Linked DNA regions of Homo sapiens: regions 2, 3 and 4 are each linked to region 1. The links come from fine-mapping of genetic effects on gene expression. A gene starts in region 1. Each other region holds a variant in brackets. All regions are shown on one strand. Distances are between the middles of the regions.

Region 1 (8,110 bases):
CCCAGGATTCCTGACAGCCAAAGAAAATATTTTTGGTACTTTGAAATAAAGCTCTCATGAAGCATTTATATAGGGAACATCAAATTCTAACAACACTTTCTATGTGTTAATACATGTAGGAATACTCAAATTATGAAAGCACTACACAGAGATGAATGGATAATTAACTATTATGCATATATTACTGAATTGAGAATAAAGCTACAATTCTGACTTTCAGCTCCCTGTTTTCATCAACAAAGTCTTATGCATAAATAACATAACATATTTTCTGAGATTGGGCAGTTTCTATGAAATACAAAGTCTGAAATAAGACTTTTATTAAAACTGAAATGTAACAACTCTGATCTTGTTATATAAAACCACAAACACACACATGTACACAATCTAAGAAGACATAAAATAAACACTTCCTTTAGGTTGTAATGTGCAAAGGTGAAATGCACAGAAAGATATTAACCATCTTTTAAGTGTAATTTTTCAGTTTTAAATAAAGCTTTTCAAGTGGTACTTATAGTGGAATAAAAACATACTTAAAATAAGCATTTAAAAATGTTTTCATTATTCCAAATAGTTTACAAAAATTTTAGACAAACTCCAACCATTATGGCCCACTTTAACATGCCTATCTGCTTTTTATATAAGCACACAGGTATTTATTAAGCATGTAAACCTCCTTTCCATTTATTACTATCCAGGAGGAATATGAAACCTAGATTATTATTCAGAGAGATATATAGCTAAGTGGACCTTCATTTAGCTTCATTCTACCCATTGATTTTGGTACTAACCCCATTAGGTAACCACGTGAAGAATAAGTCTTCTTTCTCTAGTAAGACAAACTCACCTTCCATCTGTTCCATTTAAAATGGCCTACCAGCCCCTTTGAGTTGAAGTCTTTCCCTGAATCAAGTTCCTTTTAGGATTCTTCTGAGGAGGGAAGGCCTGAAGGTTTCCTTCATTCCTTTATTCAGTACACAAATACTGGTGGAGAGTCTCCTGTGTTCTGGGCTATGCTTTCAGGAGACAAAGGATAAGACGTGGTCCTTTAAGAGTAGGCTGGGCACTGTGGCTCACGCCTATAATCCCAGCACTTTGGGAGGCCGAGGCAGGCGGATCACAAGGTCAGGAGTTCAAGACCAGCCTGGCCAACATGGTAAAACCCCATCTCTGCTAAAAATATAAAAAATTAGCCGGGCACGTGGCACATGCCTGTAGTCCCAGCTATTCGGGAGGCTGAGGCAGGAGAATCACTTGATCCTGGGTGGTGGAGGTTACAGTGAGCCAAGATCATGCCACTGCAGTCCAGCCTGGGTGACAGTGAGACTCTGTCTCAAAAAAAAAAAAAAAAGAGAATAAACCCCTCCAACTCTGCATTATGTAAATGAATAACTGAAACAAAGTGTCATGGGTCCTTGCCCTACCTAACAGAACCTACTGGGGGCCAAGAAAGGGAAGGGCTACTTCTATTTCTGCAATGAGGGAAGTATTCCTGAGGGGATAATACCTATGCTTAGGCACTTAAAATGATCGGCTGGGTGGTGAAATGAGGGGGAGATTCCCAAACGGGGAAATTGAGCGCAATCTTGGAAACGTGGGCAATTTTGAAACAGCTCTGCATAACTAGAAAGATTGGAAAACAGCAGTTTTCTCCTGTTATGTGAAAAGATTTATAGCAGCCAGGCATGGTGGCTTATGCCTGTAATTCCAGCACTTTGGGAGGCTGTGGTGGGCAGATCACCTGAGGCCAGGAGTTCGAGACCAGCCTGGCCAACATGGTGAAACCTTGTCTCTACTAAAAATATAAAAATTAGCCAGGCGTGGTGGTGGTCACCTGTAATCCCAGCTACTCGGGAGGCTGAGGCAGGAGAATCACTTGAACCCCAGAGATGGAGGTTGCAGTGAGCCGAGATCGCATCACTGCACTCCAGCCTGGGCAACAGGAACAAGACTCCTTCTCCAAAAAAAAAAAAAAAAAAAAAAAAAAGATTTATAGCAAATCTGTGATTATTATTTTGCTAATCACTGGCTACAGTGAGGATAGCTTAGTACCATTATGTGAAGACCACCAAGCTTGGTGGTGCTCTTAAGTGGTTTTGCCCAACATGAGCTTATTTCTTGCTTATGTGGATTCTGTTGTAGGTCCTGGGACTCTCCAGGGCAGCTGTGCTCTGGGTAATAGTTTAGCATTCCAGTCTTGTGTCACCTTCATTTTAATACATGCTTTCATGATTGCAGTAGCAAAGGAAGGGAACATAGAGACTCAAACACTGGCAGTAATTTCACCAGGAAATAAAGCATTTCATGTCTGTTCACATTTCCACTTATCAAAGTCACAGGGTCATACCTAATTTCCATGGGGTGGAGCATATAGTTCTCCCTAGGACCAGAAGGAGGACAGCAAAAAGTGGTAAGCACTGAAAATGCCTTCAGTGGTTACGAAATGTTATGAATGTTTTATGACTAAGATTAGCCTAATCTTACTGGTATTAGGGTCCATAATATTACTAGTATGTCATAAATTAAGGCTGAAACTAATTAAAGATTTAATCTTGTCTTGTGATTGAAAGTTATGGACTTTCAAGTAGTTTCACTGTTACTCAATATTTGCATCATTGTCTGTGCAAGCAACTGTAAAAGCTTGCACAGCTCTGTATTCAGAAGCATAAATGATTCATGAAATTGTTTAAACAGAGTTATTGTTTAAAGACTAAAACCCAGAGGTATTTAAATAAATTGCTTTACTCTTAGTTAAAATCTCTAAAAGCAACTTTTTCTAATATGGTTCCAGTATTGTAATCCAAATGAGCCATGTGTTTTTTTCTTTTCATATTTAAGATGCACTGAAAGGACATTATGCACTGAAAGAAATAAATACCAATGCCTGCGTGTGGTAGACAAATGGCACATTGCTAGGCATTTAGTTCAGCAATCTTTTTTTGTTGCTGCAATGGATAACCAACTAAAGGAGCATTAATATCAATTTAATTGTAATACCTGCCAAATGTTATTCTATCAGTGGCTAACACAGGTTTATTACTTGATGTTAGTGCTACAACAGAAGTCCCCTGCAGGATGTTCCTTCCTGTAAGATCTCTCCATCAGTTTAATCCAAATATGTTTTTAAAACTCTAATTTTAAATTCATTTCTTAATGTCACGTTGTTTTCTGAAAACACATTTTTGGGCCCATCAGAATGGCGCGCATCTTAAAACAATTGGCGCTTATGAAAAATATAAAATATGTAAATATATTAGGGTGGTGCAAAAGTAATTGCGGTTTTGTCATTACTTTTTAAAAAAAAAAAAAATGGCAAAAACCGCAGTTACTTTTGCACCAACCTAGTACCTGTCTGTCAGGTGTAAAGAATCATCTAAAGGGCATGCACGTGGATACTAAAACGTACAAACAAGCACACAGCTGTGTCTGATTCCTTTACCCTTGTAAAAGTTCCAATAAGTGAATACAATCTATTACTTAATTCTTAGTTTATAGACTGTCATTAGACATACTGTTGTCCAGTTCTCATGTCAGAGCTGTTATAGGCTTTTACAAAAAATGCCTCTGAAGACAGGGCAAGCTTAAACCTGCCACCAATTAGAAAGATCTGTGTCACAGGTGCGCTTTTAAAAGAATGGCAATCTTAAAGGTCAAGTTAAAAACACAAATTTAAAAAAACGATCCTGGACGTCGAGGGTCGGACTCTAGGGGGGGCAAGCTGCAGGCCCCACTCTGCGAGTTTCTGACCGCATTCCGCGGAGGCCCCAATCCTCCCCGCGGATCCTGGCAAGGCAGGTAACCTCCCTTCCCCCGCACCTGTCCGGTTCAGGCGCACCAGCCTTCCCGAAGCGCAGCCTAGCGGTGGGAATGGGAACACCTCGTCTGGGAGCTTTCTTTCGGTTCAGCTTCCCCAGCCGGACCCCAAAGACCCGAAGCCCTGGGGGAAGGAAATTCCAACTTGCTCCCGGCCCACCCCCGCCCCGTTCCTCTCTCCGGCTCGCTGCTTCCCTCGCTCCAATGCCGCCGAGCTGGTCCCCACTTATGTGCGGCCGTGCTGCAGAGGCGGCGGCGAGCTCCCGGACTCCGGGCAGGGAAATGGGGCAGGGTGAGTGAGAGAGCGGGCTCCAGCGAGGCCCCCAGCGCCCAGCCAGCGCCCGCACCCCGCCCGCGGGACAGGGGAGGTGCTGAGTCGGCCCTGCCCGCGCTGGGCTGAGCCTCGCAGGGGTTGCCGCTTCTCCATTCAAGTCCTGGCTTGAGAGCCGAGCGGCAAGAGCGCGGGCCGGGGAAGGGAAGAGTAGGAGAGGAAGCCGCGAGGGAGAACAGGCGAGCTACTGTCTCCTTTGGAAAAGAACGTAGGAGCCTTGGGTGGGAAAAGAGAGATCAGCCCTCCCAACTTCTCTTCGGGAAAAGTTTTCCTAGGGCGTTTTGTTTGTGCAAACTCGGCCGGAGGAGCCTGGGAGTGCGCTGCCGGCGTGGCAGCGGTGCCCGTGCGCCCGGCCCCGCTCCTCCTCCTTTTCCAGCCCCGGCGGCTCCTCTCCCTCCGAGAGGCGCCAAATGGCTACCCAGTAAACCCCACGGGGCGGGGGCTGCAGCGCCACCGCCTCCTCCGCCGTGCTCTGGGCGCCCGCTAGACCTTGTAGAGACGGCGGCGGCGCCCGCGGGCTGGGAGCCGGGGCCCGCAGGTGGAAGCGCACCCGGGAGGCGGGCCGGCCGGGGCTGGAGCGGCTCGGGCGGGCTCTTGACGCTCAGCCAGCTTCGCTCCGGCCTCGGGAAGGCGCGCGTCCCGCCCTGACCCGCCGGCCTCTCCCACCCCAGCAGTGACGCGCCGCCTGGGAGCTGGAGCCCGCGCAGCGCCCCGCAGGGCGATGGACGGCCGAACCCCGCGCCCGCAGGACGCCCCAGCCAGGTAAGCCCAGAGCGCCGCGCCGCCTCTCACCGGGGAGGGCGAGGCCGGCGAGGACAGCGAGGCCTCGGCCGTTTCACCTGGCTGGCAACTCGCTGCCCTGCCGGCGGCCTGACTCACTGACTGTCCTCCACGCGGCCGGGGAGGCTGCTTCCTCCCGGCCTTCTCGGAGGCCGCCCGGGCGGAGGGCTCGGGTCGTTTTTGGTTGCCTTCCTACCGGGGCTGCCCTGGGTTGCTACAGGCCAGCTGAATGCCAGGAATTGGGTGAGGAGTCCGGGAGCAAAAATTGTAACAAAGGGACCCTTGTTTGGGCTCTGGGGGAGCGGTGGACGATACCTGTAAGTGAGCTCCTGGGGAGGGAGGGCAAAAGTTTCCTTGGTCATGGGCTGAGGCCCAGGCAGGTGAGCAATGTCAAGGTGACTGTAGGGAGTGGGCTTTCTGCAGGCGGGTGGAGGGCGACAGGAGGGTGTGCCAGCTGTCAGCCCGCATGACAGTTCCGGGAGCGAGCGGGGTGCGCGCCTCTGATTGGGGGTGTGTGTGCCTGTGGCCAATTGCTGGTTCCAAAACCCAGCGCAAATCAGATTGCAAACAACTCTACTTTTCTTTTTATCCTCACATGTTTGAGAAGAGAGGAAGGGGGCTGTCACATGGTGAGTTAATATTAAATGAGGCATGTCTTCCTGCCAGATATGCTAATAGTTACCTTGTTAAGCGTTTGAGTAAACAGTAATGAGAACAGGTAGTTCTGCAAGAGATGAAGAAAACCTGAAAATAACCTTGGTCTTAGTAAATAGTTCAGGAGTAACCTGGATGCTAGTTGAGTTTCTCAAGTAGGAAACTCGTTTGATGTAGTACAAGATTTTTCCCCCCAGCATAAGTGTTCCTCCAACATAGTTTATTTTCTTAGTTAATCTGAATGCAGAAATGCCCTAATGAGAATACGAGCATTCCAGAAATAGAAACGTTAAGGAAAAATCGACGTTGTCACTAATGAATGAGACTTGTACAGTTTTCCTGATTTAAGAGTGTAGAAGTCATTTTTCCCTGGAACATGACAGGCGTTTCCTTAGAAGCAAGTCACAGCATGTTTATTCATCAGAGACCATGCGAACATTGGCAGCTGTCTAGAGGAAACATGGAAAAGTCTCAAAGCAACATGACTAATCTAAAAGATATTTAGTATAATTTTTACATAGAGGAAACATGTAGTGTATTAATTATTTCATTTTGCTCAAATTAACTTTCTCCTTTCTGCAAATATTACTCCCACTGTTGACTTTCATTTCTTTTCTTTCCCCAGGTTTTTCATTGCTTAAATATTTTCATATATCCTGACATATATTCTCACATTAGGATGAGTAAAGAAATATATCGGTAGAAAGATATTGAGCATACAAGCAAGGTTCCTAAGTGGAGCTGCAAAATTATGTGAATTGACGATGAGACAGCTGTCAGGATACCGAAATGTATTCAGGGATTGCAAAATGAGATAGAATTAAATTGGATTTGGAAATGGATTAGGTTAAGGTACTTTAAAAAACAAAAAAGAAAGAAAAACATACCTGCTTTCACAAAATACACCCATGGGTGTTCAGAAGTCACTGGGGACTTTTAAGTAAAATAGGTGAGGTCAGATGGCTCTGTGTTGAAGAAACAGAAGAACACTTTTTGCTGGCAAGCATAACTGTAGTAAGAACCTTCAGACTTTACTCTTGATATTTTATTTTAATGTAGAGACAAGGTCTTGCTATGTTGCCTAGTTGATCCGAAACCCCAGGCTTCAAGCAATCCTCTCACCTTGGCTTCCCAAAGTGTTGGGTTTACCAGTATGAGCCAGTGCGCCCAGCCACTTTTGAGAATTTAAAGGTTAAACTGATAAGTTCTTTGCTTAAAAAGAAAGTACAAAAGAGCCTTATCTAATTTGTCAAGCATTTGTAAAGGACTTTTGCCGTCCCCTTTTCAAATTTAAGTAGGGAAAATCTGTCAACACCTTATCTAAAATAACACAGTAGTTCTATCATTTTGCCTTACATTATTCTACTCAGAGAAGTTATCATTACCTGAAAAATATCAACATGAAAAAATTACCTCTCTACTTCATTTGTCTTATTTCACTTGTCTAACTTGTCCTTTGGCATATTCCGAATGCCTGTCATATAAGATTTGTTGAATATTTAATATTCAGTATTGCTTCTCTTCTCTCTCAAAAACCCAAATTATAAAAGGTTTAAACTGGGGGAAAAATATCTAGATAAGGGTATTTGGGAAGTGGCAGGCAGAAATCTTAATATGTTATAATTGTTAGGTTTTGGAGATAAATTTCTTGCTATAAAACTGACTAATTATATCATAACTCATTACTTTAATAGACAATGAAGCCTAGTTTAGTCTTTATCCTTGGATATTACTGTTGGAAAGAATTCCTCTGTAATTTTCCAAGTTTTACATTGTTGTAACATGTCATTTTAACATAGCACCAAGTTTTGTTCTCCACATTTTATAAATGAGAATCTGAAGCTCAGAAACACTGAGTGTGTTGAAGTCCCAGCAAATTAGTAGTAAAACCAGAAGAAAAACTCCAAGTGCCTAGTTCATTTTGTTAATTGCTTTTTATCTTTTCTTGACCATGGTATGATATAACATACCATGACGTTATACATTTTAACGGATAACTTATATTTAACCATTAACTCTGTAATATTTTAATACATTTCAGGAAAAATGTAGTTGATATCCTTATCTTCACTTTTATTAATTCTATGATAAATTAGCCCATTCAGGGAATGAGTATTTTAGGAAAATAAAATTGTTTTATGGCCTCTCAGCTGCTGCTTTTTCTTTGAAACATTCTAAATAATAATTGTAACATCAAAAGGGATAGTTTGAAGTTTGTTTGGTGCCTTCACACATTTAACTCGCATTTAGCATTCTACGACATTGTGAATTATATGGGTTGGGTGTCATTTTCTTTTCAGTGGAAGCAATGGTGTGCAGAAATAGTGGCTGCCGTAGGGTCTGTGCTGGTGAAGTCCCTGCCTTAAAAGGGTCTGATCCTGTGGTCATCTTGAATGTCTTTCATTTTGGCCTCTACTGTACTGCTTTAATCCCTTACCATTCTAGATTAGATCCCTTTCTTTTGAGACAGGCTGGAGTCTTGCTATGTTGCCCAGGCTGACCTTGACCTCTTGGGCCCAAGTGATCCTCCCA
Region 2 (8,110 bases), 140 kb after region 1:
TGCTATGTTGAAGGACTATAGGGAAACAATGTGGAGATGGAGTCTAATTAGGTACTTCCTAATGATGAGTCAGACAACATAGTAGCAGTTAAGCTGGATGTTGGATGTCTTCTAAGGGAAGGGAAAAAAGGGTTGACTCAGTGTGAGATGTGACAGATACAAGATGAGGGTGAATGGAAGGATGACTTGTTCTTTACTAAGACAGGGAAGGCTGTGAGAATAGGATGTGGCAGAGGGATAAAGAGGAATCATCATGATCTCAGTTTTAGACATGCTAAATTGAAGAGGCTTCAGACATTAAGGGGAGATCAGAACAGAGGTCCAAGATAGAGACGTGGATTTGGAATTCATCAGCATGCAAATAATACATAAAGAGAATAGATGAGATCCTCTGGAGAGGGAGCAGAGATACTAAATGGAATGTGTTCACAGACCACACTCTGTGTCACACCAGTGTTGATCAGGAGATGAAGAGAAGCAGACACAGAAAACTGAGTAGCCAGAGAGTACGGATCTATAGAGAGTAAGAAATGTGGTCTCCTGGAAGAAAAATAATGTATTTTAGGAGGGTGGTCAGCTTTGTTTAATGTTGCTAATAGGTCTCATAAGTGAGTTCTGAGAAGTGGCCACAGATTTCTTCATAGTCAAGGTCTTTGGTGACTTTGATAGGAATCCTTTTAATGGATCAAAGGCTGGGAAAAGTATCATTGAAAGGATTCAAGTGGGATAAGAGAAATTGGAGACACAAACTGCAAACAACTCTTTTGTTTATTTATTCATTTTTTCAAGATGGAGTTTCACTCTTGTCGCCCAGGCTCGAGTGCAATGGCGCAATCTTGGCTCACTGCCACCTCCGCCTCTGGGATTCAAGCGATTCTCCTGCCTTAGCCTCCCGAGTAGCTGGGATTACAGGCACATGCCACCACGCCTGGCTAATTTTTTTATTTTTAGTAGAGACGGGCTTTCACTACGTTGGCCAGGCTGGTCTCGAACTCTTTACCTCAGGTGGTCTGCCCACCTTGGCCTTCCAAAGTGTGTGAGCCACACTTTGGAATTACAGGTGTGAGCCACCTGAACAACTCTTTTAAATAGTTATTTATTCGTTCATTCATTCATTCATTCATTCTTGGTAAAGGCAAAGAGCAAAGATGACATGGCATTTGGTCAGGAGGCACTGACCCCTGCTGAAGGAGGATGTCTTAGGGTCTGCTGACAGTCACGGGCTAGGAGTGTGAGCAGTAGCTCTTTGCAGTAGGTGACCTTGAAGGACCTGGCCTCAGGTAGACATATAGATTTTTGCAGTGTTCCTCACTGAAACACTGCAGCTGTAAAGAGGTAGATTTAATCAAGCCAAATACTACTATACAAATAATGTTCCCTTTTTCATCCCTTCCTTTTAATGTCTCCAGATTTTTCTTTAAAAGTTAGGTTTTAACTCTGTTACTTATGAGTCCTCTACATTACAGTTAGTTGTTTGTGTGGCAGTTTCCCATTCTAGCCCAAGTTTCTTGAGAAAGGCCGTATTTTATTTTTCTTTACATATCTATCCCATAGCCCAGCTTCTGTGTGTGGCAGATGCTTCATAAACGTTTTTAAGGAATGACTGTTATGTTCCATTTGGATATATCCTGTGCTTGACGTAAAGTTCAGTGTCTTCCTAAAGTTTGCTACTGATTTCTAAATGTAGGATTTTATTTGGTCATTTTGTTTTCCAGAGTCCCTGTGAAGCAGGAAGAGTGAGGGCAGGTTCACTGCAGCTCAGCAGCATGTCTGCAGGGAATTCATCTTTGAGAAGGACAAAGCGAAAAGCACCTTCCCCACCCTCCAAAATACCCCCGCATCAAAGTGATGAAAATAGTCGTGTGACTGGTAATGTGGTTGTTTCATTAACATTACATTTGTATTGTGTTTTGTTTAATATGGACAGTAGGAAAGATATGGGTATGTAAGTTATGCTTTTTAAATAATACTTAGGCTTTTTAAATACATCTTGATTAGTCTCACTTTGCTGCCGTTTAAAAATCTGAAACATCACCAAATAAAGTGTCAAAATTATACAGCTCCATTATCCTAAGATGAGCATGTCATAATCTGTGAATTTATTCAGAAAGATGCTGCCATTTCAGGATTAGCTGTATGTAGAAAAGGGAGTCTAAGTGGATTTTAGTGTTTTACAGCTAGATAGTAAAATGGCTTCTAGCAAGGCTTACTGCTTTCTGAACTATATAACTAAGTTAAACTGTTAAGGAATTGTTTTATTTGTGAATATGACTTTATAAGTTGTGTTGCTTCTTTCCTTTAGCCTTACAGCCAGTAGATGGAGTTCCTCCAGACAGTGCTTCAGAAGCAAACTCTCCTGAGGAGCTATCCAGCCCAGGTATGACACCCTTATTCTACATGGTGTAATTACTGAAAAAGGACGTCCATGATAATTGAGAAATGAGTCCATTTGCGATGCTTTGTACATGAAAGAGATACAGATTCTTTGGCCTCATTTCCCAAATTTTTATTATGAAATAAATTCTTGCCCCCACCCCTCTGCCCCTCAACCCAATTAGAGTATGAAGCTGGCAGAGATCAAAATTTCAGTTCTGGAATTGTCCTTGAGTACTTTTTCTATGTGGTCTCCTGCTTTCCTTTATGCAGTATCAGGTTAACATTTATTAACCTCCTTCCCAAGTGTAATGACACACCGTAATTAGGAATGTACCTTGGTGTGTGCAGAAGAAAACTTACAGGAAAGTGTAAGCACAATTTCTTGATGCAACTGTTCTAGGTATGAACTCAACATACAAGTTACCCTACTCTAATGGTAAAAATCTGTTACCATGAAAATGTTTTCTGTTGCAGTATATGGCTCTCCTCTAGGATTCTTTCCAAACAAAATTCCATTACAAGTTACATAATTTATAGTAATACTTTTCCAGTGTTTTTAATAATAGCTACTTAGTAGCTTTTCTAAGAAGTATGATAAAAATGTTTTAATCTTTAGAGTTACTATTAGACATCAATGAATGTGATAGACTAGTAATATCATACCAAAAATAGAATATGATTATGCTAGGACTTTATCATGGGGATAATTCTGTAAGTATAAAAAATGCTTAATATGACTCGCCTGATTTTTATAATTTATATTCCAAATACAGGAAACATTTAGGAGGAACACTCTTGAATCTTTCATCTTTAAGTGGTATTTAAGAATTTGGAATTTTAGCATATATATGTAAGAATTCTTCACTCCTCTGTGATTTTAAATCTTACTCTCAGATAACTAGTAATGATTTTTCTCAGCTTTTACTCAGAATAATATAAATGGCACCATTTTTTTCCACAAAGGAAATGTATTGAATAATAACAATTACAACTGTTGAGTGAAATTAGAAGTCACTGAAATATTATAAAAAGGAGTGCATGCTATTCAAACTTTGCTTCATATCTGTTTTTCTTCATTTGTTTTTTTCCTTTTACCTCTTCTTATTTAATG[C/T]ATGGATAATTGTGAGCTAACAAATCTGATTTCTTCCAAAATGCTTCTTGGTCTCTGCTTGCCTTAACTCTGTTGTCTAAGTGCCATTTCTACAGATTCTACTTCTTTGGCAGAAACCTTTCACCCTGGGCTTTCCAGTCAGGAGCAGTGCACTGCGCCCAAACTGATGGAGGAAACCTCTGTCTTTGAGTGCCCTGGGACACCTGAGGCAGCCATAACATCATTGACATGTAGGTGGTCAGGCCTTTCCTGGCTGGTGCTTTGTGTCAGGCAGGTTAAGATATCATCGACTGTAAATTTGATGAGCTATTGAAACCTTGTGTAAACATATTTTATAAAGAAAGAGAAGTTTCCCCTTTTTCACTTGAAATTTTATCTGGGTGTAGAGTTTGTTGTTTTTCCCAACCATACAGATGAATACAACAGAGTGGATTAGTTAAATAAAATCAGTGGTTCCGAAGAATTTTAGCTTCTCTTCTATTTGGCTTATATATACTGAGGGGTCACTTTGAAAACACAATTGAGGCTGGGCATGGTGGCTCACACTTAAAATACCAGCTACTCATGAGGCTGAGGTGGAAGATTGCTTGAGCCCTGAATTTTGAGACAGCAGTGAGCTATGATCATGCCACTGAACTCCAGCCTGGGTGACAAAGCAAGACCTTATAATAAAAATTAAAAAACACATTTGTATCTAAACCATCATGGCCTTTCATTTTTTTTCAATACAGAGTTTTCAAATTATTATTATTATTATTTTTTTTTTTTTTTTTTTGAGGAGTCTCACTGTTGCCCAGGCTGGAGTGCAGTGGCGTGATCTCGGCTCACTGCAAGCTCCACCTCCTGGGTTCACGCCATTCTCCCGCCTCAGCTTGCTGAGTAGCTGGGACTACAGGCGCCCGCCACCACACCTGGCTAATTTTTTTGTATTTTTAGTAGAGACGGGGTTTCACTATGTTGGCCAGGATGGTCTCGATCTCCTGACCTTGTGATCCGCCCTCCTCAGCCTCCCAAAGTGCTGGGATTACAGGCGTGAGCCACCACGCCCAGCCTAGAGTTTTCAAATTATATAAATACGTTCTTAACACATAGATACAATATGCTATCGTAGACACATTATTTCTATTTCACATCATAATAAAGCATCATTTGCCAAAATATGTACATTTGAATATTCACTTAAACCTAAATTTTAAAATATTTTTTATTGAGTAATCTATTTTTATTAATGATAAAAATACCATTAAAATTTCTCATGTTTATTTCTCAAAGAGCACAAATAGCACACTTTTCTGTCTGTATACTTAGAGATAAAATTTTAAAAATATATTTTAAGTACTTTAAATATTGAATTATGTTAAAAATTTAAATTAAATTTTCTGAATGTGCTGATTACTATAATTGGATGCTACACCACCTCCCCACCCCGCCCCCCCCTCCCACCACATCCCCAGCCTTGGGATAAAATTAAATTTCATTCAGATACTGTGGTGTATATGGAAATGTTTAATTATATTTAGCAAAAATCCAGAACCTCACTCTGGCTTACATTTACTTCCATGGCTAATCTTGACAATAAGCATGAACATTAACTGCTCAGGATGCCTCCTTCTCTTTTACCCTGCTGGCTACTGGTTGTTGGTGATAAAATACATTTTTTTTATACAGTGAAATGTTAACCACAGCTATTGAAAATATTTATGTGTAAACATATATATTAATATGGATGATATTTAAGATATTGTAAGTGGAAAAAAAGCTAGGTGGCTACAGTATGCTTCCATTTATATTAAATAAACTAACAAAAGGAAACGTGAGTATGGTTATCAGCCTATGTATGTATATTACACTTTCTCAGGACATACAGGAAAAACTGTTAAAGCAAGTTGCCTCTGAGAATCAAACTGGTTAGGAATAAAACTTAATTTTCATTGTCCAATACTTGCTCTATTTGTATTTTCACAAATTAAGCATCTAGGTCAGTGGCTTTTAACTGAGGTTGCATAGTAGAATCATCTAAGTAGTCTTAAAAATCCCTTGCCCCACCCTTCAGAGATTCTGATTTTGTGGAGTAGGGTGTGAGCCTCAATATTTTTAAAGGGGGCTCAGGTAATTCTCAAGTATAGTTGGTACTAATAACTATTGAGTCAAATTTTATGAGTGCCCTTGTAGACAATACAAAAATCTCATGTGCTTTTCATTTTCACTTTTAAAATTATTAATTTGCCTTTAATTTGCACTATTGAGTTGCTGGATGAGTGTAAAAACCATTCAATTGTAAGACATTTCTTAAATGAAATATTTAACTTAAAGTTTATGAGATTAAATAACCTCTTGTCTCTACCATGAATAAAACCTAGAGTGATAGCAAATTGTTTTGGGAATTATGAGTCTGAGATAATCTGGTTTTATGTTAACGTGACTGCTCACCAGGAGAAAGAACTTCACTATTATTTTTGAGGCAGAATTTAAAAGAGTCCAGCTAATTATTATTTTTCAAAATTCCTTCCTTGCCAGAATTGCATGTGATGAATGAGGCAAATTAATATTTAGGATTATATCTGCATTTCTTTGTAGCTGGAATAAGCTCTGATTATAGCCTTGAAGAGATAGATGAAAAGGAAGAACTGAGTGAAGTGCCTAAAGTTGAAGCTGAAAATATTTCTCCGAAGTCACAAGATATTCCTTTTGTATCTACTGATATAATAAATACACTGAAAAATGATCCTGACTCAGCCCTTGGCAATGGTAGTGGAGAGTTCTCACAAAACTCCATGGAAGAAAAACAAGAAACTAAAAGCACAGATGGACAGTAAGTAGTCTCTGTGCTGGAGTGTTGGTGGCCGTTAGTTTAATTAATACTAGTCTTCTGAAATATAGATCTGATATTTTAAACATAAATATAGTCAGCCCTTTGGTTTTGACTTTATCCTTTTTACCATTATATAAGAATGTTTATTAATGAAGTACTTATTTGCATGTAATTACATTCAAAGAAAATCAAATGTGACAGTTCTAATATCCCTGTGTCAGATAAACCATGAGAAATAGTTTGTGTGATTCAAAAATGAAAATTTTTCTTTTTGTGGGTGTTTTGCCTGTTAACCTATGTGACCTATATGTAATATTTAATTTTCAATTTTTACCAAGTATTCCTGGTGGATTTTCACTGGTATATGAAAACAATTATGCATATTAGAATATGATGTTAAATCACGAGTATTATCTTTGCAGTCAACTTTATGAAACAGAGAATGTACTTTCTGCTTTATTCTAGAAACAGACAGCTATAGTCTAGTCCACTTAGGTTTGAAATGCAACAACATGGATAAAGATGAAATCAACCAAGCAAAATAAACCATATATGTCAGACGTTTATTATAATTTGCATGAGATTGTCTCCTTATTAAACTATTCTACCACCAAAGGGAAAAAAAGATCAGTGAGGTCAATCTACATTCTTATTTATATAGTTGACCTTGCCAGATGAAAAACTAAAATGTTTCATTTAATTTCCTTTTTCTTTAAAAGGCAAATAAATGATAATAGCAAAATAAAGCCACTATTTTGGAAAAGTGTCTATTTTACCAAGCTTCTTTCTTTTTAATGGGACCACCACATGAAAGCTAATGTTTCATAGCAGCATTTCTTCTCAGTTATATTTTTTCTCTGCTATTAAATTTCCGATGTTTGGCAGAAATAAATGATTATTTTAGTCCATCTGTCTTTGGAAATTATTGCCTGTTTCTCATTGTGTGTGTGTGTGTCTGTGTGTGTGTGTATGTGTGTGTTTCAATAGTATCAACATATAACATACAATGTCGTATCTTCCAGAGAACCACACAGTGTAGTATATGATACAAGCAATGGAAAGAAGGTAGTTGACAGTATAAGAAACTTGAAGTCGTTGGGCCCAAACCAAGAGAATGGTGAGTTATATAAATTAATAGCCAACACTTTCTTACTTTTATTATGTGCCAAGGACAGTTCTTAACACTTTATATGTATTAACTCATTTAATCTCCTGTAACTCACTTAATACCTACCTCATTTATGGATATTATGGGTACTATTATTTTTAGTTCCATTTTACAGATGATTGTGCCACAGAGATATTAAATAACTCACCTGAGGTCTCACAACTACTACGGTAAGTGGTGAACCTAGGATTTAAACTGGGGCAATATTGCTCTAGAGTGTGCCCTTAACTACCATGTGTACTACTTTTGTTGTTAAAACATAGAAATTATCTAATTTAGACTTTGGATCTTAAAAATGTTTCTTCTGTGTATCTATTTGCGATCTGTTTCTCTTTTTTTCCATCTAACTTCCTTGGATGAAACTTTTCTGCCTGATTTTTCAAGGCCCAAATCATCTAATAATATAACCTTATTTACCACTGTTTCCCAGTTCCCATCCTCATATTAGCACAACTTATTTTTTCTCATGATGTCATTTGCTTATTTCTATATCATAAGGCATATATTCATGTTGTCTTTGTCTGAAAGACAATTTTTCATCTATTTTACCCATTCAATTTTTATCCAAATCATATCATTTCATGTTTTTACTTGATTATTAGAAGCTTTGCGGTTCTATATTTATGATTCCTCAACTGAATTA
Region 3 (8,110 bases), 310 kb before region 1:
GGAGTGCAGTGGCGCGATCTCGGCTCACTGCAAGTTCCGCCTCCCGGGTTCAAGCTATTCTCCTGCCTCAGCCTCCCGAGTAGCTGGGACCACAGGCGCCCGCCACCACGCCCGGCTAATTTTGTATTCTTAATAGATACCAGGTTTCACCATGTTAGCCAGGATGGTCTCAATCTCCTGACCTCGTGATCCGCCCGCCTCGGCCTCCCAAAGTGCTGGGATTACAGGAGTGAGCCAGGTGATGAGTTTTAAATACAAAACCATTTTGTATTTAAGCGGCACATTCCATTAAAGAAATAAATGATTTGTATTTTATTAAAATTAAAAGCTGCTGTTTTACAAAGATATTCTTAAGAGAATGAAAAGACAAACCAGCAACTGGAAGACAATATTTGCAAAGCACATATCTGATTTAAAAAAAAAAAAAAAAAGACTGGGGCTAGGTGAAGTAGCTCATTCCTGTAATCCAGCACTTTGGGAAGCTGAGAGGGGAAGATCATTTGAGCCCAAGAGTTTGAGACTGGCCTGGGCAGCATAGGGAGACACTGTTTCTCCAAAAAATAAAAATAAAAAAATTAGCCAGGCATGGTGTAGTGTATCTGTGGTACCAGCTACTCAGGAGGCTGAGGCAGAAGGATTACTTGAGCCTGGGAGGTCGAGGCTGCAGTGAGCCATGATCAGACCACTGCACTATAGCCTGGGCAACAGAATTATACCCTGTCTCAAAAGAAAACAAAACAAAACAAAACAACAAACCAGTGTCCAGAATATCTAAAGAACTCTTAAAACTCAACAATAAGAAAACAAATGACCCAATTTAAAACTGGCAAAAGATCTGAACAGATACCCCACACGAGTATATAGTACAGGTGGTTATTAAGGAGGTAAAAAGGCACTCGACATCATTTGTCATTAGGGAATTGCAAACTAAAACAACAAGGAGTTACCACTGCACATCTGTTAGAATGACTGAAAAATGTATCTGGCAATACCAACTTCTGATGAGGATGCAGAATAACAGGAACTCTTGCTTATTGCTGGTGGGAATGCAAAACTAGACAACCGCCTTGGAAGACAGTTTGGCGGTTTCTTACAAAATAAACATAGTCTTACCATATGATCCAACAACTGCACTTCTAGGTATTTAGCTGATCAATTTGAAAACTTATGTCTTCACAAAAAACCTGCATGTGAATATTTATAGCAGCTGTATTCATAATGACCCCAAACTGGAAGTAACCAAGATGCCCTTCAATGACCCCAAACTGGAAGCAACCAAGATGTCCTTCAATAGTTGTATAGATAAATAAATTGTTATGCCCATACAATAAAATATTACTGAGTGATTAAAAAGAAATGAGCTATCAAGATACAAACAAATATTAATGAATATTAAATGCACATTTCTAAGTGAGAAAAAGCCAACCTCAAAAAGCTACATACTGTATGATTTCAATTACCTGACATTCTAGAAAACACAAAGCAACAGAGATGATAAGAAAATAGTGTTTTCCAGGGGTTCATGGTGAGGGATTATCTAGGTAAAGCAAAGGGGATTTTTTTTTAGGGTGAGAACCTGTTCTCTAAGATTCTATAATGGTGAATATGAAACTTAATGCATTTGTTAAAACTCATAGACCTTTATAACACAAAGAGTGAATCTTAATATATACAAATTAAAAAAAAAATCTTTTGTGAGGTTTGGGGATCCCAGGAAGAAATGGAATATGTGACAAAAATATATACATGTATTGCAAAATATGAAATGACCTCACTGTAGGTGGTGGGGTAATAACATGCTAACCTAAGTAACTTTGGAAATGAGTGGAGTCTGTAAGACTAAAGGTAAAAGGAACAATACCCTAGTTGATAAAGTTGTTTCCAATGGTAGTATAGATTAACAATCCTGAAACCACTGTGCATGTGTACCAGTACTGAGCAATTACAAACATGTGTATCTCCTTGTTCTGTCAGCTGAGAGGGCCTAGAAGCAATGACACCCCAGTAGCAACAAACACAGCTAGCACTCAGATCTTGGTTTCTAATACCATTTTCCAATAAAAAGAACTAGGGCTCCTTGGAGAAATGGTTGATTCTAGGACTGCGGCAGAAATTATAAAAGATGAGCCTGGAGCATCTGATAGTACCTAAAACTAAGAAAGTGTTAAAAAACAAAAAAAAATGCAACCCACAACCATGGTGTATGTCAAACTGTTACAGGTGTCAACTGAAAGAGCTTCCAGTGGCCAAAGATGAAGCCATTTGAACAAATAAATGAAATATCATTGAATTGTAATCCAAAATATAAAATGACTATCCATGACTACATGTTAATTGAAATGATTGAATAATTAAATAAAATATGAATGGACAAATATCCTATGCAGAATAATTTCAAATAATTTTGGTATATACTTAAGATCATAACTGCGGGTTCCTTAAATGTGGTCTGTACACAGTGACTTTATTTCAAAGAGCACATATGGAAAAGGAAGAAAAGGGAGTAAATTTACAGTAGAGAAACCTAACACTACCTCAAGACAGGTGGTGAAAGTTAACATCAAGAGTGATAAGTCATAGTGAGTGATAAGTATGTACCCTTGGCATGATGTGATGTGATGACAGTGACATTTTACCTCTGTAGTCTTCCACCCAAAAATCCATAACCTAAATATAATCATGAGACAAACATTAGACAAATCCCAATTGAAGGGTATTCTATAAAATATCTGACCAGTAATCCTCAAAACTGTTGTGGTCATCAAAAACAAGGGAAGTCTGAGAGATTGTCACAGCCAAGAGGAGCCTAAAAAGACATAACTACTAAATGCGATGTGTATCCTGAATGGGATCCTGGAACAAAAAAAGGACATTAAGAAAAAAACTGAGGGCTGGGCACGGTGGCTCTCGCCTGTAATCCCAGCACTTTGGGAGGCCGAGGCAGGCGGATCACGAGGTCAGGAGATGGAGACCATCCTGGCTAACACTGTGAAACCCTGTCTCCACTAAAAATACAAAAAATTAGCTGGGCGTGATGGCAGGCACCTGTAGTCCCAGCTATTTGGGAGGCTGAGGCAGGAGAATGGTGTGAACCTGGGAGGCGGAGCTTGCATTGAGCCGAGATTGCACCACTGCACTCCAGCTTGGGCGACAGAACGAGACTACATCTCAAAACAAAACAAAAAAAAAGAAAAAAACTGATGAAATCTGAATAAAATAGTAACTTTAGGTAATAATAATGTATTAAGGCTGGGTGCGGTGGCTCGCACCTGTAATCCCAGTACTTCAGGAGGCCAAGGCAGGAGATTGCTTGAGCCCAGAAGTTTCAGACCAGCCTGGGCAGCGTAGCAAGATCCCATCTCAATTAAATAATAACAATATATCAATATTGAAAATGGCATGGAATGTATGAAGCCTGTACTATCCTCATACTTTTTCTGTAAATAAAAAATTGTTATAAATATTAACTTTATTTTAGAAAATTCTACAAAACCAGCTAATGAAATGGTTGATTCCCCACTCTTTGTCTGTTTTCTGGCTTTTAATTTTTTTTTTTTTTTTTTTTTTTTTTTTTTTTTTTTTTTTTGAGTCAGAGTCTCGCTCTGTCACCCAGGCTGGAGTGCAATGGCACAATATCGGCTCACTGCAAGCTCCACCTCCCGGGTTCACGCCATTCTCCTGCCTCAGCCTCCCGAGTAGCTGGGACTACAGGCACCCACCACAACGCCCAGCTAATTGTTTTTTTTTTGTATTTTTAGTAGAGATGGAGTTTCACTGTGTTAGCCAGGATAGTCTCGATCTCCTGACCTTATGATCCGCCCGCCTTGGCCTCCCAAAGTGCTGGGATTACAGGCGTGAGCCACTGCACCCGGCCTTAATTTTTAACTATTGATTCTTGCCACTTTGTAAAGAGTAGAAATATGGTAATGTCAGAGCCAAAAGTGTGTGGTTGCTAGCTTTCTGCCATTCTAAATGTCCGTAAATATTTATTTGCATCTAAATTTTCTATCGGTCTTCCTAGTGAATTTCATCTGATAAGTTTCACGGTGGGCAATCACCTAAAGTGTTCTGGAAATTAAAGCAAGATAATTCGTCACAGATAGCAGCTTTGGGTTTTGAAAATTCCTATAAGTCAAATAAATTGAAATTGCTGTAATTTCTAAACTGACCCTACCTCCATTTCTCTCTCTTATAGCCAGTGTCCAGAAGGATACATCTGTGTGAAGGCTGGTCGAAACCCCAACTATGGCTACACAAGCTTTGACACCTTTAGCTGGGCTTTCCTGTCTCTATTTCGACTCATGACTCAAGACTACTGGGAAAATCTTTACCAGTTGGTAAGGTCCAAATGAGCATGCATAACATTTATTTTTATAGACATGTATGAAATGAAAAGCATAGGCTGGGTGTGGTGGCTCATGCCTGTAACCCTAGCACTTTGGGAGGCAGAGGCGGATGGATCACTTGAGTCCAGGAATTCGAGACCAGCCTGAACAACATGGCAAAACCCCATCTCTACCAAAATACAAAAATTAGCCCAGCATGGTGGCGCCCATCTGTAGCCCTAGCTACAAGGGAGTCTGAGGTGGGAGGATCACCCAAGCCCAGGAGGTGGAGGTTGCAGTGAGTCGAGATCATATCATTGCACTCCAGCCTAGATGACAGAGTAAGACCCCATCTCAAAAAAAGAAAGGGAAAGGGAAAGGGAATGGGAAAAGGAAAGGGAAAGGGAAAGGGAGAGAAGGGAATGGAAGGGAAGGGAAGGGAAAGGACCTGCTTATAACACTCTGGAACACAGAGGAAG[G/T]TCCAACATAAAGCAAGTGTGCCAGGAATCCTAATTGCTCACTGAGTCAGTACCTATATATGTACACTGAGGACTTTTTTATGTGAAAGGCATTCTGCTAGGAACTTGGAGATGCTCATGACTCTTAGAAGTTGATAATCCAGTTGTTGGTATATAAACAGCACGTTAAAAGATTTTAAAAATCAGTGATGTTGATGTGAAAATTTCAAATTAAAGCTCTAGCTATTAACTGAGACTAGAAGGGGAGGGGAGCAAAAGTCATCTATAGATGGTATGGAGAATAGCTGCAGTGCAAATGGAATCCCACTGAAAGGATTTAAAGGTTCAGTGCTCTTACTTGTCATATTATTGCTCTGCATATGAACTCTAATAAAAGCATTATAGTGGGGCTCACATATATATCCACTATATATGAGTTTAAAATGTATTTATATCCAACAAGACTGCAGTCAAGCCTCAAATAATCTGATTCTTAATTTTGTGTGTTGAGCATATCAATACCAAAAAATTCTTGGTGAAAATAAACTGGATACTAAAAAGCTAATTAGTCTACTGACTATCTAACTGTGGTAATCAGATATTTATTTGGGGACATTATACTAAAATACTGATGGAATTATCCCCCATTTCCCCTAGACATTACGTGCTGCTGGGAAAACATACATGATATTTTTTGTCCTGGTCATTTTCTTGGGCTCATTTTATTTGGTGAATTTGATCCTGGCTGTGGTGGCCATGGCCTATGAGGAGCAGAATCAGGCCACCTTGGAAGAAGCAGAACAAAAAGAGGCCGAATTTCAGCAGATGCTCGAACAGCTTAAAAAGCAACAGGAAGAAGCTCAGGTACTGAGTGATAAAAGCAAAGATTTATCATTATTATTATTAGTTTCTAAGTAGAAATAGTGTTATACTATAGAGGGTAGATTGGAACTGCTTTTTCATTTTATATATAGGCATTGTCATTAGAAAAAAAAGTATTCAAATATGAACTTGTTTCTGAAGTTAGAGTCTAACAAACTTTTTAGCCACTGTATATAAAGAAATCAGCTAGCGGATAGAAAATACATTAGAGATAAGGTTTACTATGGAATTGTCTCATAGAACCTAAGAGAGGAATTTAATTTTTTATTTAATTTAGAAAAGAAATAAAACTGATATTTCCAATTATTAGTGATTCACCCCTAATTATGACATTTGAGATTTTGTTCTGAAGTTAATTGATTTTAAAGGTTGACAAGAGACTTTATATATACCTATGCTTAACAATTCTTTGGGATTTCTGTAGCAAAAAAAAAAAAAAAAAAAAATGTTTGCTATAGCCCACATCAGGATATCAGGAAGGTATCTAAAGTTAGATGCCAACTTGAGATTTTTATTAATATTAAAGGCTGTGTGAGCTAGGGGTATAGTGAATGGGACATTAATGTGTTGAGGAGAAGAGACGGAAACACAGTACTGTATTAAAAGACAGAAAAAAAAATCCATATACTGAAAGGTGAAGACTCACGAATATATAGTAAAAATCTGATTCATGCCAGTTAGAATTATAATTTCTCAATATTTTTGCCAACATTTGGTATGGCCAGTCTTTTTAATTTTAGCCATTCTAATAAGTATCTCATTTCTGTTTTGATTTTCATTTTCCTAATTACTAATGTTGAGCACCTTTTTCTGTTCTTATTTTCCATCTGTATAGCTTCTTTTATGAAGTGGTTGTTCAAATCTTTAATCCCCTCCTTTTTTTTTAGTTAGGTTGTTTGATTTCATATTATTGAGTTTTGAGCATTCTTTGACTCTTTGGGATGTAAGTCCTATATCACATATATGCTTCTCAAATATTTAAAGTGCAGTTTATCCAGAGTATTATTTCTTAGCTTTTTTGTTTAAATCATTCTTTTGGATCTAAGAAATTTTTGCCAAGTCAACACCATGAGTATTTTCTTCTAAATTTTCTTCTTAAGTTAGTTTTATGCTTTATATTTAGGTAAATAACCCATTTTAGTTAATTTTTGTATAACATATGAGTGATATGTTGAGATTCACTTTTTTAAAATGAGTATCTAATTATTCCAACTGCATAAAAACAAAATATTCATTCTCCACTGCATTGCCTTTGAACTTTTGTCAATTATTAGTTGTCCATAGGTGAGTTTGTCTATTTCTGAACTCTATTCTGTTTAGTTTATTTGTCATTTTTATACCAGTACCACACTCTCTTAATTCCTGTACCTTTTATGACGAGTCTTGAAATAACATAGTGCAGGTCCCCAACTTTTTGTTCTTTTTTTTTTTTTTCAAAGCTGTTTTGGCTGTTTTATGTCCCTTGTAGTTCTGTATGAGTTTTTTTTCTAAGTTTCATATATATATATTTTTTATTATACTTTAAGTTCTAGGGTACATGTGCACAACATGCAGGTTTGTTACATATGCATACATGTGCCATGTTGGTGTGCTGCACCCATTAACTCGTCATTTACATTAGGTATACCTCCTAATGCTATCCTTCCCACCTCCCCCACCCACCAGTTAGAATGGCGATCATTAAAAAGTCAGGAAACAACAGGTGCTGGAGAGGATGTGGAGAAATAAGAACACTTTTACACTGTTGGTGGGACTGTAAACTAGTTCAACCATTGTGGAAGACAGTGTGGCGATTCCTCAGGTATCTAGAACTAGAAATACCATTTAACCCAGCCATCCCATTACTGGATATATACTCAAAGGAATATAAATCATGCTGCTATAAAGACACATGCACACGTATGTTTATTGCGGCACTATTCACAATAGCAAAGACTCTATATGAGTTTTAAACTCCATTTGTCAATTGCAATTTGAATGATTTCTATTGCTGTCTTCAAGTCAATTATCTTTTCTTTTGAACATTTAATCTGCCGCTAATTTCATCCAGTGTATTTGTCATCTGAAACATTGTAGTTTTCACCTCTGCAAGCTTGATCTGTGTCTTTTTTATATTTCATATATCTCTAATTAACATTGTGAACATACACAATACAGTTATAACAACTGTTTAAGTTCCCTGTCTGCTAATTTGAACATCTGTGTCACTTCTTGGTCAGTTTTGATTAATTTTTCTCTTTATTATGGGTCACATATTCCTGCAGTTTTATGTTCCTGACAATCTTCAATTGAATTCCAGACACTGTCAATTTTACTTTTTTTAAGTGCTGGATATTTTTGTATTCCCATAAAAATTATTGATCTTTGTTTCGGGACATAGTTATGTTGTTTACACAGTTTGATCCTTTTGTATCTTTAAACATTTGAAAATTTGTTAGGCAGGAC
Region 4 (8,110 bases), 130 kb before region 1:
TACAGCTAAATGCAATTACAGGCCTCAGAGTTAATACATAGATCACTTCTTATTTAAGGCAATTCACCTTTGAATTGGTTAACCTTTAATTGTTTATAAAATAATAAGATGGGAAACAAAGTTGCTACCTAATATGTTAGTTTCCCCAAATAAACACTTATTTAAAGGTTCATTTGTTAATCAAGTATCTGGAACTTGAAATACATTTTTATGAAAGGAAATACATTTTAGGTGATGATTAGGTTTTTATCAAGAGCTGAAGTTTTTAATAATGAACAGGGAGAGATACTGTGGCAAAACAGTAATTGAATAAAACATACATTCAATAAAATGATATGAAAAATCAATGTTTCACATTTATCCTGAGTCAAATATAGAGAGAATTAAATTGAGGACGACAAAGTGTAGTTTCTAATCATTGTTCCACCACTATTTGACCTTGAGCAAATTGCCTGGAGACCATATTTGGTAGACAGATGAGGATGTACACTTTCTTTTAAATACTTGAGAATTAGCTTAAGTGCTCTCATTTGACAACTTGCTCAGTATTTCATAAATGCCAGGAAATTAGCTCAAATCCTCTGATGAGCTGCATTTTCTGTGTTCAATTTGTATAAATTCAATAAATATTTATTGAGGGTCTTCCATATGCTGGGTATGTGTCTTAGCAAAATAGTTTTAAAGTACAATATGAAAGATCTGATGCTCAATAGTATATCATTAGTGAATTGCAAATTAAAATCTAAATGAGATATCACTATATATCCACTGGATTGTCTAATAGTTTAAGTTGTCAGTATTAAATATTGAGAAAAATGTGGAGCAGCTGGAACACTCATACATTGCTAGTGGGAGATTAAAATGGTGCAGCACTTTGTAAAGCTAAACATATATTTACTATACTACCCAATAATACCACTAAGTATTTACCAAGAGAAAACAATTTTCTACACGAAGACTTGTACATGAATGTTCACAGCAGCTTTATTCATCATAGCTAAAAACTGGAAACAACTCAAAAACATGTAAGTAAATTGATGAACAAATTGTGGTATATCAATTTAATGGGATACCATCCAACAATGAAATAAATCAATGAATGATAACACTGATTGACATGAATAATCTCAAAATCATTATCCTATGTTAATGAAGCCAGACACAAATGAGTATTTCGTATATTATTTTATTTGCATAAAAATTTATAACAGGAAAATCTAATCTATAATGGAAAAAAGTAGATTTGTGGTTGTCTGAGCTAAGGGGTAGAGGAAGATTGACGGACTGCAAAGTGCAAAAGGGAACTCCTTGGGGGTGATGGAAATAGTCTATATCCTGATTAGCAAGATGGTTACATGCATGTGTACCTTTCTCAAAACGCATAGAACATACACTTAAAATGTGCAGTGCTGGCTGGGTGCAATGGCTCACACCTGTAATCCCAGCACTTTGGAGGCCGAGGCGGGTGGATCACCTGAGGTCAGGAGTTCAAGACCAGTTTGGCCAACATGGTGAAACCCCATCTCTACAAAAATACAAAACTTAGCCAGGCCTGCTGGTGGGTGCCTGTAATCCCAGCTACTTGGCAGGCTGAGGCGGGAGAATCACTTGAACCCGGGAGGTGGAAGTTGCAGTGAGCAGAGATCGTGCCATTGCACTCCAGCCTGAGCAACAGAGAGAGACTCCATCTCAAAAGTAAACAAATAAATAAATAAATAAAATGTGCAGTGCTTCAGTTTTCTGAAGATTTCCAGGAGCTTCGGAGGAATTAAACAACCTTTGAGGTAATGACAGGAATTTGAGTTGAGAAACCACCAGCGATGTCAGAGGGATTTTCAGAACCCATGAAATCAGTTCACAAGAGAAAGGGAACACTTTCATCTTTTAAGAAGTCTGCTTACAGTAATATCAGTCATGTATGAACTTGAAAGAGAGGCTTTTCCCAGACTTTCAAATGCCAGAGCTGCCAAAATCTGAGTTCGGCAAAAATGAGGAGGGCAGGGGGTCAAGTAAGAGATGCGAAGCCAACCAGCCTTCCCACTGCCTCCCAGACTGCAGGTTCCCACCTGCTTCTCTGCAAAGCTTTAATTACTAAATTGAGACCCTCTGACTCTATTGCCTAGTGGTCATGGGGGCTGTTGGAAATGTCATTCAGTAGCAGGAAAACGTTTCCCCATTGAATAAATTTTAAAGGGAAAAGTGAGAGAGAAAAAAAGTAGTGTCTTAATTACAATATGTTTGCTATGCTAGTGCAACTTCCAGACAAACAAGTAACACCACCAATCACCCTCACTCTCCTCCTCTCTGGTTCCAATTGGATTGCCTAAAAAAAAAACTTGACGCCGCCACCATCTCAGTCAATTAATTTCGTAAAACTGCAGATGCTCGTGCTCCTTGCTTTGAAGGATGTATGTGGGGAGGGGGAGATGTTACAAATTAAAATGGTGAGGAAGGTGTTTTAAGAAGAGCAAATAGAAACTGTGCACATGTAAATACATAAGTAGCAGTTAATAGTGTTAAGAAGCATCAGCCTTTCCTTGTTCCACTGAGCACAGTGATAAGGACCTAAATCTCCTGACATGAAATAGTAAAGACTCAATACCACTCCATCCAAAATGGAATCCAGTCTCTGGGAAGAAAGAGGAAGAAAGGATAGATTGAGGAAATTGATGGATGGAAGGGGTGAAAAAGGAAGCTAGCAAAGAAAGAAAAAGAAATTCCTAGATTTCCATCTGAGACAGGTTCTATTTGGGCTAGCTGGTGACATGATGAAAAAGTTTTTAAATGTTTGCACCATTTTCTGGACCCCAAATGCCACTCTCCAGAGATACTGTGTAGCCCAATTGACCAACCCAGAAGATCTGAGCTCTTCACAATACTGATCCTGGAACCCGGACTTCCTGTTTCGTGAAGGACCAGAACTTGGTATCATGCATATGTATTATTAACCCTTTAACTACTAAAGACCATGTTTCTTGTGAATATTTTTATTATCACTGAAATCACTGAAGGAATTAAGTTGCCTCCTTTGAATCTTATCAGATTCAAATAATGTCAGTTAGTAGCTTAACAGAAAAGTAACTAGAGATAATTTGAACCAAAACAGAACCTATAACAAATGAATAATGGAACAGTAATAATTCCAGAGTTTGCTGTGGAATAGAAAATTATTTCAAAAGGAATTTCTAAGAGGAAAATATTTCTTCTAACTAGGGCATAGAAAAATATACAAATGAAAAGGTTTTTTTTCCGTGTACCTGAATCTAAAAGGAGTTATGGTGCCTTGATAGCCACTGGCTATTTAAGCTAAAGGGAACAGTGTACATGGTTTATTTTCGCTCTTCTCCGGCATTTAAATTCTGTGTGAGTGTGTGTGTGTGCACATATGCGTGTATGCATTAGACTTGTTAGATTGCTCTTATTTTCCCCAAAAGGCACCAATTGGTAAAATGCACAGGCTTTTCAGTAGGACACACCACCTGATTCTTACAACACACACACACACACACACACACACACACACACACACACACTCCACACTGTCTTCTTACGGTTTGGTTTGGATTTTGCTACTTTTAAACATTTCCAATCTTTCAGTCTGTAGCTTCTTTCCTTTAGATAATTTACATTTTATTGGCAATATGTTTTACATTATTTAATCACCATTTTTTAAGTCATTGTAGTAGGGACGTTTAAGGCCAGGCCAACCTCATGCATAAAAAGATTCAGCAAGAGATTTGCTGTCCTGTGCTTCCCACCACATCTGGGTCAGGCCCCTGCAAAGCAAGGTCATGGGAATGTGGCTGCTGTCTGAGTTTTTCCTTTTCTAGCCCTTAGGGG[C/A]ATGAAGGTCCTTTTGGACATTGAGTTGAAAAAGGTAGTAGTATTTATAACAAATCTAAATGGATTCATATGATTCTTACCCATGCTATTTTAAAACTTCTTTTAAAAGTCAGGCTGAGCTCCTATGGCAAGTGGTCACTTTGTTCATACTGACATTTTTTAGAAAATACCTTAGGGTCTCATGTGAGTAAGAAGTAGATTGCAAGAACTTTGAGAAAGGAACACAGCTAAGGAAGGGGTAAAAGAAAGATGAACTGAAATTAAAAACAAATGTATTCTGTAAAATTTTTTTAAAAGGTAGAGATACCAAGAAATCAAGGGGGAAACATGCATTGTTGCATTCTTGCTTTCACTTCATTTTCTCACATGGATGATATAGAGAAATCAACCGCTAATAAGAATGAAGCCACTTACTATGACATATTATTTTTAACTCATGAAACATTCATAGTGCTTCATATCTCAAAAATATATTTTACATCTTTGCAAATTGTGCACCTTTGCTACTGTTTGTCTAGCAATAGGCCCGTGGTACCCCCAAAGTTAACAGAAGGAAAGCATGTAATAAAAGACAATATTATAAACTAAAAAGTAATGAGAAATGATAATAAAACTAATCAGAATCTACCTTTATTTGATTCCAAAAACTCCTTTCTCCTTACTATTTTATTTACCCCAGTGATACATGTTTCTTATTCTCCATATCAGGAATTGTCATATTCTCCCTGAAATGGTTAGGCTTTTTGTCCCCACCCAAATCTTATCTTGAATTGTAATCCTCATAATCCCCACATGTCATGGGAGGGACCTGATGGGAAGTGATTGAATCCTGGGGTGGTTTCCCCCATGCTGTTCTTGTGATAGTGAGTGAGTTCTTACGAGATCTAATAGTTTTATAAGTGTCTGGCATTTCCTCTGCTGGCACATCTCTCTCCTGCCGCCCTGTAAAGAGGTCCCTTCCGCCATGATTGTAAGTTTCCTGAGGCCTCCCCAGCCATGTGGAACTGTGAGTCAATTAAATCTCTTTTCTTTATAAATTACCCAGTCTTGGGTATTTCTTCCTAGCAGCATGAGATCGGACTAATACCCTCTCCTTATCTCATTTTTAATGATAAGGTCGAATTCTAATCCTACTAGTGAGAGACAGGACTAGCTGGATTTCCTAGGCCAACTAAGAATTCCTAAGCCTAGCTGGGGAAGATGACCACACCCACCTTTAAACACGAGGCTTGTAACTCAGCTCACACCCGACCCATTAGGTAGTAAAGAGAGCTCACTAAAATACCAATTCGGTGAAAAAAGAAATAGTCAAATCATCTATCACCTAAATGCACAGGGGGAGGGACAATGATCAGGATATAAACTCAGGCATTCAAGCCGGATTGGGAAACCCCTTTGGTCCCCTCCCGTTGTATGGGAGCTGTTTTCACTCTATTAAATCTTGCAACTGCACACTCTTCTGGTCTGTGTTTGTTCCAGCTCGAGCTGAGCTTATGCTCCCCGTCCACCACTGCTGATCGCCACTATCGCAGACCTGCCGCTGACTTCCACTCCTCCGAATCTGGAAGGATGTCTGCTGCACTTCTGATCCAGAGAGGCACCCAATGCTGCTCCCGATCGGGCTAGAGGCTTGCCATTGTTCCTGCATGGCTAAGTGCCTGGGTTCATCCTAATCGAGCTGAACACTAGTGGCTGGGTTCCACGGTTCTCTTCCGTGACCCACAGCTTCTAATAGAGCTATAACACTCACCGCATGGCCCAAGGTTCCATTCCTTGGAATCCATGAGGCCAAGAACCCCAGGTCAGAGAACAAAAGGCTTGCCGCCATCTTGGGAGCAGCCGCCACCAACGTGGGAGTTCTAAATACAAAGACCCTCCGGTAACACTAGCATCATGGAATAGAGGAATTACAAGTGGTAGAGGAATTTTAATGCCATCTAGTGTTTCCATGTGTATGAACCATACTGCAGGCCACTGCTCAAACCCACCTTTAGCTCAAGCTGTTTTCTTCATTCTCACTCCCTACTGCTTTGTAGGGAAGCCACTGTAGCTGGCACAATGGCCCATTGACTGGATAAGGGATTGGTAACTAGCCCAAGAAGAGCTCATCCCTAGGCCGTGTTAAAATAATTAATTGGGAAACCATCAAACTGAGGTGGCTCTAGTCCCCTGAGTTCCTACATGCGAACTCAAACCCAACTCAGAGGGAATGGTCATAGCCTAGGAAAATGAACTTAAGCTTAACCAATCAGAAACTGCCAACTAACCTCTAACTAGGGACTTTAAGCCTACTTTAGCCAATCAAATGTTTTCTTTGTCTTGCTTCCGAGAACACCTAATAAAACTTTTTCCGTTATTCCCCTTCAGTGGAGCCCAACCTGGTTGTGGTTTGGCACTGTGAATTCATGAATCACTGTCTGCTCAAATAAACTCTTTAAAATGTTAATGTGCTTAAGTTTATCTTTTAACAGCTGGCAGCCTCCTAGGAGGAGGTGTGGTTCAACAAGCTGTGCTCAGTGGAGGCAAAGGTATGTAGCTAAGCCTGTCAGACTCACTTGTTCTGGAATTTTCCCCAGAGAACTCAGTGACTAACCAGTCAGTTGCAAGAGAATAATGAAGTAGCCCTACAGATAAAAGCTAAGATTCCATGAGAAAAAGATCACGCTGGCCATGACAGACAGAGAAAAGAAAAATCTAGGGATACTTGGAATCTTGACAAATTTTCTAGTCCTAGATTCATTACAAAAATTTTTCTAATCACCACTTTCCCCATTCCTAAAGAAGCTCAAGTAGGTTTTTGTTTACTCACAAGCAAAGGAGAACACCTAGCATCCTTTCTATCCTTCGTCATCCCCTACAATGTCCTTGCCCAGTGGTCACGCTCAGGTTTAAATATCTCTAGTAATAATTTACCACTCAGTTTATCCCAAGACATCTCTAAGTAATTAGGTTTTAAAGCCATTGGTTATATTGAGTGAGCCTTTCAACCTCTGAGTCTTTATTCTCTGGCTACTTAAAGCACTGTGAGACTCAGTATCCTCTCATTATTCTGATCCCTCTCAATTGTAAATGTCCCAGTTGATCTGTAACTTTCCTCAAATTGTGGCTTCCAGAGCTGAAAACAATAGTCCATGTGTGGTGTGACCAACACAGATGGCCTGGATTATTGTCATCCTTGTTCTGTGTAATTTATTACAAGTACTTTACCTGACTGTGTTAGACTTTTTTCTCAGCCCCATTAAATTGTTGCATTATTTAAACTTCTTGTTAATTAAAAGCAGTATTAGAAATGAGTTGGAGATAACACACATGTTCTTACCTTGCACCTATACAGTTGGTTTTTCAGATTCAAGGTCAGGATGTTATATTTGTAAGTTAAACTTCATTTTTGCTAGGCTAAATTTCACGTTTCCAGCCTTCCATCAAATATCACTGACCACCCACCCCACCCTCTTATGATCATTACTTCCTCTAAATTGCTCCAACAAATATATCTATTTCACTCATTTGGTACATCTCTTATTCTACCTAATCAAGTTAGTCAACTTATAATGAACATTGGTTCCAAACTATAGAGCATACATATCTTGTTTTCAGAATCTATAGAATGCCACACACACAATCTTTATTGGTAACTAGTAATGATCAAAAATGAGAAATGTAGGCATATTCAATAGATCCTACATTGTTTTCCTAATCACAGCCTGTGAGCTTTCAGATATGTTACTGGGGCAATTTCAGCATTGGGTCTGATTTGTGAAACCTAGCACATTCTTTCCCCTCCTTATAGAGGATGAGTAGATAATCCTTTTGAAATGTGAGTGGATAATGTATAACTTCAATTGCTAGTCTTTTGGGTGTCCTTAGCATCTTTTTAATACATTTCTACTAAACACTTCTAAGATAGACAGTGGTCTGTCACAGGCAGTTGAGAAGGGCCATTTGGCTTGAGCTTTCAATGTTTGAAAAGCCTCAGATTAGTGATGTTATATCTATGAAACCACCTTTGTAAAAATTGTATCAGTAAGAAAATACTGGCAGTGGGGGAGATCCGATCTAGCCACCCAGCTTTTGCCTTAACCCTTCAAGCTGTCCTTAGTTATTCCTGGACTTGGGCGAAGCTAACTTTGGGAAACATTTAGTTTACAGTTTAAGTGATAATAGTCCTTCCCATAAACTCAACTGCTTTTGTAAAGCAAAGGAAAGACCACCAGGCTAAGAGGATAGAAGAGCCTGAATTCTGCTAAGGTGCAGACATAAAGGATTGCTA

Direction of the effects. Positions count from the first base shown, and alleles are read on the strand shown. Sizes are in standard deviations (SD) of each study's normalised expression. Not every link is listed here.
In carriers of allele T in region 2, the expression in thyroid of the gene that starts at base 4,239 in region 1 tends to be higher than with C alone (moderate effect, 0.55 SD a copy in GTEx).
For the expression in skeletal muscle of the gene that starts at base 4,239 in region 1, C is the low allele of the variant in region 4 and A is the other (small effect, 0.13 SD a copy in GTEx).

What was found. PIP is the estimated chance that this variant, and not a neighbour inherited with it, causes the effect.
Region 2: its variant is fine-mapped to the expression of COBLL1 in thyroid (GTEx, PIP 0.99).
Region 3: its variant is fine-mapped to the expression of COBLL1 in sigmoid colon (GTEx, PIP above 0.99).
Region 4: its variant is fine-mapped to the expression of COBLL1 in skeletal muscle (GTEx, PIP 0.95).

The regions. Positions count from the first base shown.
Region 1 is chr2:164,837,952-164,846,061 of GRCh38, reverse strand. COBLL1 (cordon-bleu WH2 repeat protein like 1) reads left to right here and starts at 4,239. Exons shown (of 14, transcript NM_001365672.2): 1 at 4,239-4,352; 2 at 4,816-4,906. The coding sequence starts at 4,866. LOC101929633 (a long non-coding RNA gene) reads right to left here and starts at 5,313. Exons shown (of 2, transcript NR_110574.1): 1 at 5,240-5,313. RefSeq lists a silencer at 4,056-4,265.
Region 2 is chr2:164,698,711-164,706,820 of GRCh38, reverse strand. COBLL1 (cordon-bleu WH2 repeat protein like 1) reads left to right here. Exons shown (of 14, transcript NM_001365672.2): 8 at 1,716-1,869; 9 at 2,303-2,377; 10 at 6,065-6,299; 11 at 7,322-7,416. Among named protein-coding and RNA genes, the nearest start is that of SNORA70F, 15 kb to the right of the region's middle. The variant C/T (reference allele first, on the strand shown) is at 3,488.
Region 3 is chr2:165,151,989-165,160,098 of GRCh38, reverse strand. It overlaps SCN3A (sodium voltage-gated channel alpha subunit 3), which reads left to right. Exons shown (of 28, transcript NM_006922.4): 10 at 4,196-4,337; 11 at 5,441-5,647. Among named protein-coding and RNA genes, the nearest start is that of SCN3A, 48 kb to the left of the region's middle. The variant G/T (reference allele first, on the strand shown) is at 4,805.
Region 4 is chr2:164,966,164-164,974,273 of GRCh38, reverse strand. No RefSeq gene overlaps it. Among named protein-coding and RNA genes, the nearest start is that of SLC38A11, 15 kb to the right of the region's middle. The variant C/A (reference allele first, on the strand shown) is at 3,841.